Regions from separate parts of the Homo sapiens genome. Here region 2 is linked to region 1. The links come from fine-mapping of genetic effects on gene expression. A gene starts in region 1. The other region holds a variant in brackets. All regions are shown on one strand. Distances are between the middles of the regions. Region 1 holds the start of SLC1A4 (solute carrier family 1 member 4). Region 2 overlaps SLC1A4 (solute carrier family 1 member 4).

Region 1 (8,521 bases):
CCAGTCGTGTGAATGAAAGAGGCATCTTGGACATTCCAGACTCAATAGATGCAATGTGGGAAAGAAACGAGGATCCTAATAGATAGCCAGAACCTAGGCCTCAGGCAAAGGACCCCAAGTGAGCTGTCCTAGCCATCTCTAGCCATTAAGCCACCCCAGCTTGGGGTTTCAGTCATTGTGAAACAGAAATGAGACCTCCTGTTATGCCCTGTCTGAATTTCTGGCCTATAAAATCATGAGCATAAAAAAATTGGTGGTTGTTTTATGCCACTCCTTTTTGAGATGGTTGTTGTTTTATGCCAGCGTGGTTTAGGCTGGTTTGTTATGCAGCAACAGATAACTGGAACAGATGCTGAAGTGAGCATTTGTATTACTCAGTTATTGCTACAATAACGCAGTATAACACATGACTCCGGAACTCAGTGGGTTTCAATAAGCATTTATTTTTCTCACGCATGGGTCTGTGGGTTGACTGGGGTGTTCTTCTTTAGGCTGTGAGGCAGCTGGGTTTGATCAGGGCTGCAGGCTAAATTCAGGCACACTCCTGTCTTTGTTCTGGTGCCAGGCTGAAAGGGCAGCATCTACCCAAGGCATGCTGGGTCACACGTATGCAGGAGTCCACATGCGATTGTGTGAAAACATTTTGATGCCTCCGCTTGCATCACATCCACTTAGTCCACTAGCCAAGGAGCTAAATGGCAAAGCTCAAAGGCAATGGGGAAGGTAAACTCCTATCTAAGTGGAAGAAACAAGGGAATAAATTTTGGCTGAACAATACTTTAGCCTATCACGGGATCAGATGACAGTAGCGGTAATGCTGTCAGGCTGGATCACTTGTAAGGCGTTGCTATAATTCAGTACTTACGCATCCAGAAATCAGGGAAAACACATATAAGTACTGTGGGGGAAGGTGTCTAACACAGGAATCAACTTTTTTTTTGCACAAAATACCTACAAACAGGAGGCATGTAAAATTATCAAAAGACCAAAAAATGCAAAAGGAGAGGAAGAAAGAGGGAAAAAGGTGGCAGAAAGTGAACCCTTTCATAGAGAGATATAGTAATACCACCAAATGTCACGGAGGCCAGAAGAGGACACCTATTTCTTGGTTTGCCTCACAAGTAGGCAGAATGGCTACAGGGCAGCCCTCTGGAGATAAAAGGCCCCAAGAGACCCTTTCGCTAATTCAATGACAGATATATGTGGCATAGTATAAGGCACCCCCAAACAGTGCTCTCACACTCAGCACCACACGATGTCTAGTAGTTCAGGGAGTTCCCCACTCCCAATTGAGGGTTGACTGACTGTTATTGCAGCTTTGGAGTGCACAGGTACAGCATAAAAAGCTGCAAGCAGCAAGCAGAGTTGGTGCAAAGAGGATTCAGAAAGGCTATGGGAGGAATGTGGTATCTGAACTGGGACTGGATGGAGAGGCAAAACAATGTGGAAGGAGCACACAGCGCCATTTTTGCAGGAGGCATAGAGGGCACATGGCTAGAGAGCAGGCTGAGGCCAGATCATGGTAGGTCTCGAATGCCAGGATGAGGAACACATTCTTAATTCACTGGGAGCCACTGAAAGCTTTTGAACAAGAAGTGATATGAAGGAGTTGTCCTCCAATATCATTTTTCTGTGTTTCCTTAGTAACAGAAACTCCAATTTTTTAACTGGGTGGATGCCTGTGTAAAACAAAAATTACATTCCCTAACGTTTCTTGCAGAAAAGAATGGTCATTTGACTAAATTCTTATCGATGAAATATAAGAGAAATAATGTGTATGACTTTTAGGAAGTGTTTTTAAAGAGAGATGCCATGCCCTCATTGCTCTTTCTTTTCTGCTGGGTGAAAGCTGAACTTTATCCTAACATGTATATTACTCATTAGGAAGATTAGCCTGGGGCAAGGCAAAATACAGGATGGTTGGAACAAGAGGAGCATTGGAGGTGGGAAGACTAATTGGGAGAACATTTCAATAGCCCAGATAAGAAGTGAGGAAATAAGAACTGAGCCAGTGTGGTAGCAGTGGGAATAGATGGGATGGGCAGATGTGATAAATATTGTGAAAGGAATCTCTGTGGGACTTGGCAATTCATTAGATGAGAGAAGGCACCACAGAGGGAAGAATCAAAGTTCGCTTTGAAGTTTCACACAGAGGTGACTGGGTCATCAATTATGTTTTAACCGAAGGGATGAGCAGGTTTGAGGAAGGCAACCATGAGTTTGGTTTTGAACATTTTAGTTGGGACGCCTGCAGGATATTCAGGTGAAGATGTAAAACAGGCAGCCGAAGACTCATTTCTGGAGCATGATTTGAGAGTCTTTTGCATAAACGTGGTAGTCAAAACAAAGGGAAGGGCTGATTGGCAAAACACAGTGTGTGTCTGTAGGAATTACTCTTTCTTCAGTGCACATAGAGAAATGAACTGCATTCTGGAAAGCCAGATATAAATATGTGCAGCTCTTCATCTGACACTACCTCCCCCGCCCACCCCCCCCCCCCCCACACACAATCCTTACAAGTTCTAGCCAATAGCTGGCTGGCTCCAAGCAATAAAATACTCACTGTCTCAAAATTTGGACAGCTCCTTAAAGTTCCTTATGAAGGCATTTTGATTTGCACAAATATGTCATGACATGTTTTAAGATGACTCCTTTATAGCAAGAAATCTATAGTAAATTGCCTTCCTCCTTAATTGAGGTTAGCCACAATTAAGTCTTCCCTTGCCTGGCACAGTGGGTGGTGCCAGCTACCAAGGAGGATCCCATAAGCCCAGGAACTGGGAGACCAGCCTGGGCAACATAGCGAGACCTTGTCCCAGAAAGAGAGGAAAGAAAGGAAAGAAAGGGAAAGAAGGAAAGAAGGAAGGAAGGGAGGGAGGGAGGGAGGGGGGGAGGAAGGAAGGAAGGAAGGAAGGAAGGAAGGAAGGAAGGAAGGAAGGAAAAAGAAAAAACAAAAGACCACCCACGGAAGTCTTTAAAGAACAATTCACAAGCAGAATAAAAAAATATAAAAATATAATAACTGTGATACAGTAAAAAGACTCAGCAGAAGTTTCCCTTGTAACTCGCGTGGCCAAAGCAGATATCAAATAAAAGATGAAATAAACAGGAAATCCATAGAACGTGAACAATAAGGAACCGTTCAGGATGGCCAAACCGCCGTCTGCGCTGTTTTCTCGCCAGGGCTCAGGCCTGGGAACGGAAGAGGTTAAAATCCAGTGGCTTGTGTTTCAGCTTTGGTTACGTGGCAGAAACCAACTGGAAGTGGTGGCGTGAGAGCTCTGTTTCTTCTAGAAGAGCTTTGCGTCTTAAACGCCCATACCGCAGACAGCTGCCTGGCGGGCGACCCAGCCCCATCCTGATGGCCCCAGGACACAAGCCCAGGAGCGCCCCGGTGCGCGCGGTTCCGCGGCCCAGGGGCGCCGGGTTTGGTGGCACAGCGAGCCCCCTTTCTCTAGCGGTATGGCTGCGTTAGAGCCCTAATGAGCGCGTGCGAAGGCTCCCCTTATTCATCCATCCTCCGGTCCGTCCTTTGTCTCAAGGCCGGGGCCTTGCTGGGCACCATGGCGTGCTTTACCGCACAAGCCCCTGAGGACCCCTGGAAGAAGGGATCTTCCGCAGGAGGGGACGCGACGGCAGGACCGCCCCGGGCCCCCTCACCGCGCCCGGCCCCCTGGCGGGAGAGGCCGGCGAGCTCTGGAGAGGAGCGCGGGCCGCGCGGGGCGAAAGCGCCACCCGGGAGAGAGGGATCCTCCCCTCTCCTCCTCTCTTCTCCCCTCCCCTCCCTCCCCTCCCACAGTCCTCAGGAGGAGGAACGCCGCTGCGTTCTAAGTTCTCCCGGGCCCTCTGGCCCCGAGGACTCAGATCCCGGCCGCGGGAGAGGGCCCGGCAGGTGCCAAGGAGCCCGGGCGGTCCTTCAGCCCGCACTTCCCCGCGGTCGCCCGGAGCCGGCCTCCGTTAGCCGGGCGGGTAGGCGGCTATTGGCGCCAGGATTGGCCGGCGCCGCCCGCGCCCCCGCGGCCTCGGGTGGAGCCTCCCGCCCGGCCGCCCCCTGCGGCACCCGCGACACGGGTGGGGACCAGAGGCTCCCGGCGGCGGCTCCCGGCGGCGGCTCCCGGGCTGTGATTGGCCAGCGCCACAGGGGGCGGGACGGCGGGCGTGAAGTGAGCGGGCTGGGGCCGCTGGCGCGCCCTCCTACTTCCCCGTCTGCGTCCGCGTTCGCGGCTCCCGTTTGCATCATCTCCAGCCGGCGGCTGCTCCAGGGAGGCTGGGCGCGATCCTCTCCGCCCGCGGCTCCAACCCGCACTCTGCGCCTCTCCTCGCCTTTCTCGCACCTGCTCCTGCGCCAGGCCCGGAGACCCCCGGGGCGGCTTCCCAGAACCTGCGGAGCACAACTGGCCGACCGACCCATTCATTGGGAACCCCGTCTTTTGCCAGAGCCCACGTCCCCTGCCACCTCTAGCTCGGAGCGGCGTGTAGCGCCATGGAGAAGAGCAACGAGACCAACGGCTACCTTGACAGCGCTCAGGCGGGGCCTGCGGCCGGGCCCGGAGCTCCGGGGACCGCGGCGGGACGCGCACGGCGTTGCGCGGGCTTCCTGCGGCGCCAAGCGCTGGTGCTGCTCACCGTGTCCGGGGTGCTGGCGGGCGCGGGCCTGGGCGCGGCGTTGCGCGGGCTCAGCCTGAGCCGCACGCAGGTCACCTACCTGGCCTTCCCCGGCGAGATGCTGCTCCGCATGCTGCGCATGATCATCCTGCCGCTGGTGGTCTGCAGCCTGGTGTCGGGCGCCGCCTCGCTCGATGCCAGCTGCCTCGGGCGTCTGGGCGGCATCGCTGTCGCCTACTTTGGCCTCACCACACTGAGTGCCTCGGCGCTCGCCGTGGCCTTGGCGTTCATCATCAAGCCAGGATCCGGTGCGCAGACCCTTCAGTCCAGCGACCTGGGGCTGGAGGACTCGGGGCCTCCTCCTGTCCCCAAAGAGACGGTGGACTCTTTCCTCGACCTGGCCAGGTAACACTCTCCACCTCTCCCAGGGCCCAGTGGGAGACGCCAGTTCTCGGATGCCCTCCAGTTCATACACCCATATGCTTATACACTCCTAAGAGTTAATTCTTAGCTGGCTGCTGGTGGCGTTTAACGTTTTAAAAATATCAAAATGACGTCTGGAGTTTTTGCGTGCTGACCACACCTTTGCAAACAGCTGGGGCGCACCGCACAATCGAAAGAGCAGGGCCGCATCTTTGAGCAAGAACCAGTCCCCACCGTTAGGTGGGCGTTTGTTAGGGAAGAGCCAGCCGCCCCGCCTGTTCTTTACTCCTTATACTCTCGCGCTGCTCTCCCCGGTAAAAATGTTCCGACCACGCCCCAGTGGCTTCGCCTCATTTTCTCCCACATGGTGCCTAAAAGCTTCTGGGAGCATTGGTTAAGTTTTGCCTCTTGGGTCATCCGGCTTGCAATCTATGGCCTTCTCTGTTACAGTCCTTGGCTGCGAAGGAAGCTGGCAATTTTCTGCAGTTATCAGTGGACCCACGGATAATAGGGCTGGGGTTAGTTGAGTGAGACATATTGCCCAGAAATATGCCTCTCCTGAGGGCTTGGGGCTTGGGACAGGTTGCTGTCCACCCCAGTAAAGACCACGGCAGAGTGCTGTGTTTCAAAGGCCTTTCTTTGTGCGAAAGTGTGAGTTCTAGAGGGGAGGGAGAGAAGCATCTTCACTTAGTTTTGCCTGCTTTTTGCAATTCTTAGAAGTTGCATTTCATCCTTTGAGATGATGTAGTATCCTTTCTGTGACTTATCCAAAACCTTGGTCTCTCCTGGTTTCTCCATTAGCCCAAAGTTCACAAATGGGGAAACTGCAGCCCGGAGGCATTTACTGATCTAACCAGGTTCAGTTGAGTGAGGAGTCCAGCTGGCTCCTTCTCCAGATTTCTGATGATTTTGGATTCTGAGCCTTGGAGTTATTAATATATTTTGTCTTGAGTTATTGAGGCAAAGCTCCTCATTGCTGAGGTTGTGAAAAACAGCAAACCCTGGGCAAAGTGACTTGCCTTTCCAACTGTTTCCATTTCTCCTTCTGGAAAATGTGATGGCTGTCTGCACTTAAGAGAGAGATTGTTCACTTAAAACAACAAAAATCTAGGACATCCGTATTTAAAAACAAACAAACAACAACAAAAAAAAACCACTCATGAGGGAGACCAAAAGTTCTTGCCAAAAGGGCAGATAGTGGTGGCCTATTAGGACTTTTAAGGGGATCACAGCTTTTTTTTTTTTTTTTTTTTTTTAAAGTCTGGGTCTTGCTCTTTTGCCCAGACTGGAGTGCAGTGTTGGGATCCTAGCTCACTGCATCCCCGAACTCCTAGGCTTCAGCGATCCTCCTGCCTCAGTCTCCAGAGTAGCTGAGATTACAGGTGCACACCACCACACCCAGCTTTTTGTTTGTTTGTTTGTTTGTTTTTTGAGACGGAGTCTCGCTCTGTCACCCAGGCTGGAGTGCAGTGTGCGATCTCGGCTCACTGCAAGCTCCGCCTCCTGGGTTCACGCCATTCTCCTGCCTCAGCCTCCCGAGTAGCTGGGATTACAGGCGCGTGCCACCACGCCCGGCTAATTTTTTGTATTTTTTAGTAGAGACGGGGTTTCACCATGTTAGCCAGGATGGTCTTGATCTCCTGACCTCGTGAGCCACCCGCCTCGGCCTCCCAAAGTGCTGGGATTACAGGTGTGAGCCACCCTGCCTGGCCCCAGCTAACTGTTTTAAATTTTTTTAGAGATGGGGTTTCACTATGCTGCCCAGGCTGGTCTAGATCACAGCCTTTGTTCTGTGACTGGCAGCTTGATATTTGGAGTCCAGACACTTTTTAAGTTTGGAAACTAACTTTTAGGTGAGTGCTGAAAAGAAGTCTCCTGAGGTTGAGAGCACCTTTAGCCTATTACCTGTAGGAGGTCGGTCAGCTCTCTCAGGGAGGAAAGGCAATAATGGGGTTAAAGGATTATTCTTTGCAGGGATCTGTGGCCCAGGGAGGGAGAATGGATGTTCAGCTCTGTCCTGCTATGGTCCCGCACCGGGAGCCTCAATAGGATCTTTTAACTCCAGAAGAGGGGGCAGTGGTGGTAGGGGGTACCTCATTACCTCCTGAAGGGACTTCTTGTTTCCTGATCATGGTTTTCTAGTTTTAGACCCAAGCCCCTTCACCTCCTGCTTCTGACATGGATGGTGACCCAGCGTCATAGCTTAGTAGTGTGGGTGCAACTTTTCAATGACTTGGGCTGCACCTGCATGGAGGGCTAAGAGAGGCTTTGTTGTGGCTTGCTGGGGATAGGTATTGCTTCATAATTCTTCCAACAGCCAACTTCATCTAATCCAGCAGCTCACGGATAAAGGTAGGGCAGGTGGTATATCCCATTTTATGACTGACAAAACTGAGACAGAGATTAAGCGATTTGCTCAAGGTCATGGAGTGGCTTATAAAGAAGAGATTAGAAGGACTGTGGGTCTCCTACCCCACAGTGCAGGGTTCTCTCTCTTTCTCCTAATCCCTCTTCCTCCAAGTCAACATGCCTTAGTAATGTCACCTGCCTAGTCTAGTGTGGCTATCTCAGAAATGCTTTCTCTGGGCCCAGAGAGGAACCAGGTAGGCATATGACTGGGTAAAGACAAATGCTCCTTTCCTCCAGCCAGCGTGGAGGCTGAGCTCCTCAAGTGAAGGAAAGTATGTGTGCACCGCTGAGGTTTGGTCTCAGGCTGAAGCAGCTTGTGAAAGGAAACTAAGTCCCAAGCCACCCGGAAATGCTTCCTGAGTCTGGAGAGTCTCTGACATCAAAATTAAAAAATTGCTTCCTTCAAGGAAACTTCACGGATGTGGATTTCATGTGACTCTGGGCATCTTCTTTGGAAAGGCAGTGCCCCATTCCTTTCTTCCTAGGGGCACGTGAATGAAATGAGACTCTGCCAGTAAACGCCTCAGTTATCCAGCAGGCCCTCTCGAGGTAGCTGCTCAGAACTTAAACACCTGGAAGAGTGGGAAAGGCCTCTGATGAGTCAGCATAGCTGCTGCTGAGGCTTTGTGCTAAAGTCCATGCCCTTTCCTGATGGTAAAGTGCCCCCAAATCCCCCAGGGTCTCTCTGTCATGATTTCTAATTTGGTTTTTAAAGCTGGAACTACAAGTCAGAAAGAGATGAAGCTAGTAGGTATTCATTACATGTGTATATGTTTTTTTAAAATTCAGAATGTCATTGCTGAGTGGTTTGATTTCCCAGCACACAATGGGTTAGAAATAACAATGTAGAATAGAGAATTGGGATGAGAAGGCTGGAGCTAGAAGCAATGAGAAGGGATGGCCAATAGTAGCTGGCAGGTGGAAGAATCATAGTCTCTTCCTGAGCAGCCCGGAGTTCTGTGCCTGGGAATCCAGAACAGTATAGGACTTTCAGAACCATGTGTGACCTAAGTGGTTGACTTGTGGGTTTTTATCCAAAATGAAATGGTTGGGCACCAAAGAGACAGAAACAGGTTATCAGGAA
Region 2 (8,000 bases), 27 kb after region 1:
ATTCCAGAGCCTGACTCTATCACTGCCAATGCCATTTCATGTGATTGTTGTTCTAGGGAGAGAACTGATATTTTCAGAAAAGAAAAGGTATTTAGATGTCAAGTTCTTTTCTTGGCTTTTGTTAAGTCTAAAATATTAATATTTTCCAAAGTTTAGACTAAAAAAAAGAAATTGGGGCAGGCGCAGTGGCTCATGCCTGTAATCCCGGCACTTTGGGAGGCCAAGGCCAGAGTATTGCTTGAGCTCAGGAGTTCAAGACCAGCCTGGGCAAAAAAGTGAGGCCCTATCTCTACAAAATATAAACAATTAAATTAAATTTAAAAGTAAAAAAACTGATTGTATTAGTCCGTTCTCACACTGCTATGAAGAAATACCTGAAACTGGGTAATTTATAATGAAGAGAGGTTTAATTGGCTCACAGTTCTACAGGCTATACAGGAAGCATGGCTGGGAAGGCCTCAGGAAACTTACAAGCATGGCAGAAGGTGAAGGGGAAGCAGGCATGTCTTCACATGGCCAGAGCAGGAGGAAGAAAGACAGGGGGAAGGTGGGGGATTACAATTCAATATGAGATTTGGGTGAGGACATAAATCCAAACCATATCACTGATACGTCCATGTTAGGACATTTGCATTTTGTTTTGTTTTGTTTGTTTTTGAGACGGAGTTTCACTCTTGTTGCCCAGGCTGCAGTGCAGTGGCACAATTTTGGCTCACCGCAACCTCCGCCTCCCAGGTTCAAGCGATTCTCCTGCCTCAGCCTCCCGAGAAGCTGGGATTACAGGCATGCGCCACCACGTCCAGCTAATTTTGTATTTTTAGTAGAGACAGGGTTTCTCCATGTTGGTCAGGCTGGTCCCAAACTCCCGACCTCAGGTGATCCGCCCACCTTGGCCTCCCAAAGTGCTAGGATTACAGGCATGAGCCATAGCGCCCGGCCGGACATTTGCTTTTAATCTGGAAACCAGTTTAGTCATTCCTTCAATTTGATGTACCAGTCACATAAGCAGGTATTCAGTAAGGCAGATCCTGCTGAATGTCTAACTGCAGCAAGAGAGCGAGAGACCTGTTGCTCAGAAATGCATATTACACAGAATTGAAGTTTAAAATGCCTTAACTAGTTAAGGGATCTCAACCAAGTATGGGAGGCATTGTCAGTATTACCGCTTTCTGCAATCTTTCTTTTACTAACTACCCACTCCAAAACCCTAGTACCTGCCTACCCTACACTATTCACAGAAATAACTTTCAGATGTATTAAACCCAGAGTCAGCCAACTTTGCAAGCCACATGCTCTCTATTGCAACTACCCAACTCTGCCACTGTAGGAGAAAAGTACCTATTCACAATTTGTAAATGAAAGAGCATGACTGTGTTCCAACAAAACTTTATTTACAAAAACTCACGCTGCTAACTCCTGGATTAAACTGACCAGGGAGAAAGGAAGAAAAGAAGGAAAGAAAGAGAGGAGTCTTCTAAAAATATTAGAAGAAAATATAGAGGCAGGGAAAGCCTTCCTAAACAAGATATAAAAAGCAAAAGCCATAAAAAGCTGCTAAACTTAACCACATCAAAATATAAAAAGTCTGCATGCAAAAGATACTTTGAACAAAGTTAAAAGTCAAGACATTCATTTCTAAAAATTGATATATATATTTGCATACTGCATATATAGAAAAAAAGAGTTCTGATTACTGAAAAAGAAAAATCACTGAACAAACCATCAGAAAATAGACAAAGTATGTGAAACCTGAATTACCAGTAAACATTTTAAGGGATGCTCAACCTCATTAGAAATAAGGGAAATGAAAATTTGGTTTTATCAGGCATTGATAATGGTGAGGGTGAGGTTTCTCAACCATGACACTATTGACATTTTGGGCTGATCAGTCTTTGTGGGAGGCTGTCTCATGACTGTAGGATGTTTAGCACCATCCTGGCCCCCACCTGCATGATGCCACTAGCACCATGCCCCAAAAGTTATGACAACCAAACTGTCTTCCAGACAAAATCATCCCTGGATAAGAACCACTGTTGCAGAGGGAAGATTATTCTCCTGGACTGCTGGTGGGAATGTGATATGGAATAACCACTTTGGAGAACAAAGTGGCAGTATCTACTGAAATTTAAAATATGCACATCCTATAACTTAGCAGTTCACTTCTTAGCATCTCTACCTAGAGAACAAAGGCATGTGGTTACCACAAAGTATGTTTGCAGTGTCGTTTGTAACGATAAACCTGGGAACAACTTAAACATCCACCAACAGGACGATGACAAAATAACCTATGGTATTTCCATTCTGAAGATAATATTTAAAGACAATGAGGTAAAGGTGGAAACAACCCAAATGTCCATCATTGGATGAATGGATAAACAAAATGAGATAGAGACATACAACAGAATATTATTCAGCCTTAGAAAGGAGTACAATTCTAGCTCATGCTCCAATGTGGATGAAGCCCGAAGACATCATAAGTGGAATAACCTAGACACAAAAGGACAAACACTGTATGATTCCACCTTTGTGTACCTAGAATAGTCAAATTCAGAGAGACAAGAAGTAGAACAGTGATTCTCAGGAACTGTGAGGAGGGGAAAGTAGGCTGTTATGTTTAATGATTTCAAAGTTTGGGATGATGGAAAAGTTCTGGATTTGGATAGTGATGATAGTTGCACAAGAATGTGAATGAACTTCATGCCACTGAACTCTACACTTAAAAATGGTTAAGATGGTAAATTTTATGTATATTTTACCACATTAAAAAATGAATGGGGTAGATTTCTATGTATTGATATGAAAAGATTTCAAAGATGTAATATAGGGTGAAAAAGAAAAAAACACATAGATTTAAATACATACCTATGTATCTAATTGCATAGGAGGTAGGAGTGTCTATTTGAGGAGGATCCTGGCTTAAGGATGGTACTTAAAGAGGATTTTGGTGTCATCTACGTTTTAATTTTTTGAAAGGAGAATGTATTCATGTATTACTATCGGGTTTTTAATTAATAATTACTGCTTAGAATATCTCTAGAAAGAAAACTCAAGAAACCAGTGACATTGTCTCCAGGGAGGGGAAATCTGGGTGCTTGGGAGAGAGATGAGAGGGAGACTTCACTCTGTTCACTCTTTTGTACCCCTTGAAATTTGAACTATGTGACATTATTACCTACGCAATTAAAATTTACAAATAAAGTCAGCAGTTAGAAAATTCTTCCTGAATTTATATTAATTCAAAACAACTGACTTTTGTTCTTTGTAGCTCCCACAGTCCATTCCTTCCCATCCTGCCTTTAAAAAACTCTCACGCTCCAGGCGTGTTCCCAGAGTGTCATTGTTAATGACTTTTTCCCACGGAATCATGTTGTCTAAGCCACAAAGAATTTAAAACTTCACAAAAGTCCTAGCTTTGGCTCAATTTTCTATCACAGCCACTCTGTGAAATAGGTGTTAGTCTTTTGTGTTTCTAAGTTCTCAGAACAAGCCTGAGCAAAGCCAAAAGTCAGGCTTACAGTCCTGGAGGCTTTGATCTCGATTTCCTTGCCTTTCCTCCTGGGAATCCCTGTGACTGGTAGCATCCTTCTGTTAAGGACATACTGTA[T/C]CCAAGGGGAAAGACGTCTGGGTTCTGGTCCTGACTCTGTTACCCTTGGTGAGTGGTCAGCCTCATTTTACCCAGTCTCACAGGCTGTAAAATGGGGATGGTATAACCCTGACTGTTTCGGTTCCTCGGGGTTATCCTAGGGAGAGATGAAGACGGCCTGGCTGAAAGTCCCTGCATTCTGCCTCAGGAAGGACCTGCATCTCTCACCCCAGCTTTATCCCCCACTGATGAGTACCCTGTGCTTGTGCCCTAGGTACGTACCTGTGGGCATCATGTTCCTTGTTGGAAGCAAGATCGTGGAAATGAAAGACATCATCGTGCTGGTGACCAGCCTGGGGAAATACATCTTCGCATCTATATTGGGCCATGTTATTCATGGAGGAATTGTTCTGCCACTTATTTATTTTGTTTTCACACGAAAAAACCCATTCAGATTCCTCCTGGGCCTCCTCGCCCCATTTGCGACAGCATTTGCTACCTGCTCCAGGTGAGTGGGTTTTGGGTCTCTTCACTGCTCTGAGCCATGTTAACATGGAACCAGGTGAGCCCAGTGGTAGATGCACAACCAGTGTCTTGACATACTTTAATTCCTGGAAAACTCTAAATCGGTCTTCTGTTATTTTTTTGTTTTTTCTTCTTTAAGAGACAGGATCTTCCCGTGATTGCCCAGGCTGGTCTCGAACTCCTGGGCTCAAGTGATCCTCCCACCTCGGCCTTCCGAATAGCTGTGATTACAGGCATGCACAGCCACACCAAGCCTCACATGATTTCTTAAAATGACCAGCCCCAAAGCTTTTCTGTATTCCCCTGGGGTGGGTTTCTGTTTCATTTACTATTCTACTGAAGTTACCTCATTCTCTTCTCCCTCTTGCTCCTTAGAGGTCAGCAGATCATTAGTTAGCCCAGCTGCGGGTCCCTCACCCTAATTAGGAAGACCTTTCCCTGAGTAAAAGAAGGCAGCCCACCTAACTCAAAAATGCATTGCAGGGAAGTTTCTAGAATGGTTCCTGCCCAATTCTCCCTTTCTGGATATGTGAATTAGAAAACGAGTCTGAGGCACCGTGGTGAGGGATGGATGCTTAGCCCTCTAGGAGTCCACAATAGTGTGGGATTGTCTCATTTGGCACAAGAGATGCATCCTGTCATTCACTGGAAAACCTTAAAAAAAAAAAAAAACACTGGGTTTTCCAAATATGTTAAAACTTTCAAAGGACGGCAGCACGTCGTTTCATTCACACATTTAGTTTTGCCTCTACTGCTCACTTCCTCCCAATCTGGATGGCTATTTATATAACACAGAGGTGGGAGTAAAAAAAAAAAAAAAATTAGGGAAGGAAGTTCCTCTGGCCTAGACAAAAACCTGTTTCTCAGCTGCACCAACTAACCTCTGCAGAGCCCGCAGAGCCAGCTAGAGGGAGCAGGTACTGTTCTTATGGTTATCTACTTAGTTATTCTTCCAAGCTCACAGAGCCATTTCTGGGTTTTGGCCTAAAAGAAAAAAAAATCATAGTTTACCATTTACTTTTGGGAGGGGAACACTCAAGAGAGGAGATGCACATGTAGAGAAACTAGTTGTTTGTTCTCTCGGGAACGTTTTGCACCGGGAGGCAATGTGCAGTTCTTAAGAAACTTGGAACACGTGAATCCAAGTAAATGACAGAATAGGTAAATGAAGGCAGTCATATTTTAAGTATCTTGGGAGTTGCCAAAGCCTCATGTTGTGACAGAAGTTTTAAAGTGATTCTGTTTTTTCCCTTATTTCAAGAGAAGAAAGCCAGAAACGAAGATGGTGCTAATTGCTCTGTTCTGGGGTCTGAGACAAGACACATGTTAGCCTGCCTCGGACTGTTGTCATGTCTGGCGGTTTGTTTTTCCCATTTCTAGCTCAGCGACCCTTCCCTCTATGATGAAGTGCATTGAAGAGAACAATGGTGTGGACAAGAGGATCAGCAGGTTTATTCTCCCCATCGGGGCCACCGTGAACATGGACGGAGCAGCCATCTTCCAGTGTGTGGCCGCGGTGTTCATTGCGCAACTCAACAACGTAGAGCTCAACGCAGGACAGATTTTCACCATTCTGTAAGTTCCTCATTCTTTCCCTGGCTCAAAACTGAAGGCTTTTCTTGTGATTTCCTTTGAAAAACCAATCTCACCACAACTTGGTGTCTCGCTCATAAAATGAGGACAGTGGGGATTCATTACTTGAAGAGCGTGTGTTGACTCTCAAGGGCGTAGCCAGCAGAGCCTATGGTGGGGCGGTTTTTAGTTTCCAGCCACATTGCAGCTGCATGGTCTGCATTTCTCTGTGTCCACTCCACGCTCTATGTTAATGGCTGGCCCTGCTCTGCCATCCCTTAGAGTGACTGCCACAGCGTCCAGTGTTGGAGCAGCAGGCGTGCCAGCTGGAGGGGTCCTCACCATTGCCATTATCCTGGAGGCCATTGGGCTGCCTACTCATGACCTGCCTCTGATCCTGGCTGTGGACTGGATTGTGTAAGTAACAAGTCCTGAGAACACCAAAAAGAGTCTGCACTGAGTTCCCTAGGAGCTTAGCACTGCTGGGCCTGGGCCATGCAGAGAAACTTCAGACACACTCCAGCCTTGTGAAGGAGGCTACAGTGGAGCTAAAAGGGCAAGATTTAGAGCTAGGAAAAATTAAACAATATGAGAGTCACATGCCCCCAAACATCCAGGAATGACCATGAGATGTCATTACCAAGAACTTGCTTATAGCATCCAGTAAAGCAGGGGTCCACAGCTGAGGCCCTCAGCGCAGGCCCAAGGGACACGAGGGTCTATGGAGTTGCTGACTGCATAGGAGTAATAAGTCGATGGAGCAGTGATCCTTTGGGAATGATTGTCCCTGGCCTGGAAGATTCTAAGGAGTGATTTCTGTGAGGGGAGGGAGGATGAACCATGCTGATGTGAGTGACTTGGGCTTGGGCTCAGCAGAGGAGGAGGTAGGGAAGAAGGTGTGATCCAGACCACATCTCTGGGGCTGCTGTGAAGACACAAAACAGTTTCTGTGCATGGATTCCTTGAGTCACATGATACCTTTTGCAGGCATGAATAATATCTATTTTATAGGGAAGGCTGCCTGAGGTACTAAAGTTGAGACAGTAGAGCCTGTGGGTAAGAAAATGAGCCCTGGAGCCCAGGTGCCTGGATTGAAATCCCAGATTTGCCATCTAGTAGTTGTGTAATGTGCACTGTGTGTGCTTTGGTCTGCTCATCTGTAAAATGGGAATGATCATAGCACCCACACCAGGGTTGTGGGGAAGATTGAGCGAGTTAGCACGGGAACAGCACACAGAATAATGAGCACGTGGTAAAACATTCAATTCATGTCAGCAAAGAAAGACACTCCAGACCAGGTTCGTCACAGGCAGGGCCTGGCACTGGGCTCACGGACTGGCCTGCTGCAGGTGGGAATGGTGGTTTTTCCAACTTGAAGGGGCTTCTCAGAGCAATGAGGGTAAAATCTGCAAAAGAGACCTGCATTGCGCAGACACCTCATCAGAGGGAACTCCGTCCCTGAGCTGGCCAGCTGGACAGGACCAGAGCTGACAGAGGCCCCCTCTCCTTCCTCACCCAGCCACCTCCTGTGCGTGGAGAAGAGGCATCAAAGAGGTGCTTGGCCAGGAACAGGGAAACAGGGCACCAAGCCGGCTGCCCAGTGGAGACCTGAAGTCACACAGGCCTGCCAGCCACCCCATCCCCTCTGATTCTGCAGACAGCAGGACGGCACTCTGCAGGGAGTCAGCTCCCCAGTGCCCTCAGGGAAGATCACATTTTTCCCTCTCTTCAAAATGTGCACAATACTTCCTCTGAGCTCCAGGGACAGGGGAATGGTATTGGCTAATCTATAACACAACAAGCTAGCTTCTGGAAAGGATAGTGATATTTTCTTTGAGATGGTATTTATATTTGCCGATGGCAATGGAACACATATGAAGATTAACATCCGCAGTAAAGTAGCGTTGAAATGAGAAAAAGAAGGGAAACTCCCACAGTGTATTATTCAGTGGAAGAAAAGCTAGACACAAAACCGTATCCACACTATTATCCCAATATGTTTGTTTATTTGTTTACTTATTAGAGTCAGGGTCTTACTCTGTGGTCCAGGCTAGAGTGCAATGGCATCATCATAGCTCACTGAAGCTTTGAACTCCTGGACTCAAGCAATCCCCCCACCTCAGCCTCCTGAGTAGCTAGGATTACAGGCACACTCTACCATGCCCAGCTAATTTGTTTATTTTTTGTAGAGATAGGATCTCACTATGTTGCCCAGGCTGGTCTCAAACTCCTGGCCTTAAACAGTCCTCCCACCTCAGCCTCCCAAATTGCTGGGATTACAGACATGAGCCACTGTGCCTGGCTTATGTGTGATTTTTAA

Evidence for each region. PIP is the estimated chance that this variant, and not a neighbour inherited with it, causes the effect.
Region 2: its variant is fine-mapped to the expression of SLC1A4 in whole blood (INTERVAL, PIP 0.97).

What each region holds. Positions count from the first base shown.
Region 1 is chr2:64,985,161-64,993,681 of GRCh38, forward strand. It overlaps SLC1A4 (solute carrier family 1 member 4), which reads left to right and starts at 4,239. Exons shown (of 8, transcript NM_003038.5): 1 at 4,239-5,010. The coding sequence starts at 4,484. RefSeq lists enhancers at 256-325, 636-705, 4,241-4,825 and silencers at 3,549-4,248, 4,459-4,638.
Region 2 is chr2:65,012,583-65,020,582 of GRCh38, forward strand. It overlaps SLC1A4 (solute carrier family 1 member 4), which reads left to right. Exons shown (of 8, transcript NM_003038.5): 5 at 3,858-4,091; 6 at 5,489-5,683; 7 at 5,963-6,097. Among named protein-coding and RNA genes, the nearest start is that of LINC02576, 14 kb to the right of the region's middle. RefSeq lists an enhancer at 4,444-4,523. The variant T/C (reference allele first, on the strand shown) is at 3,605.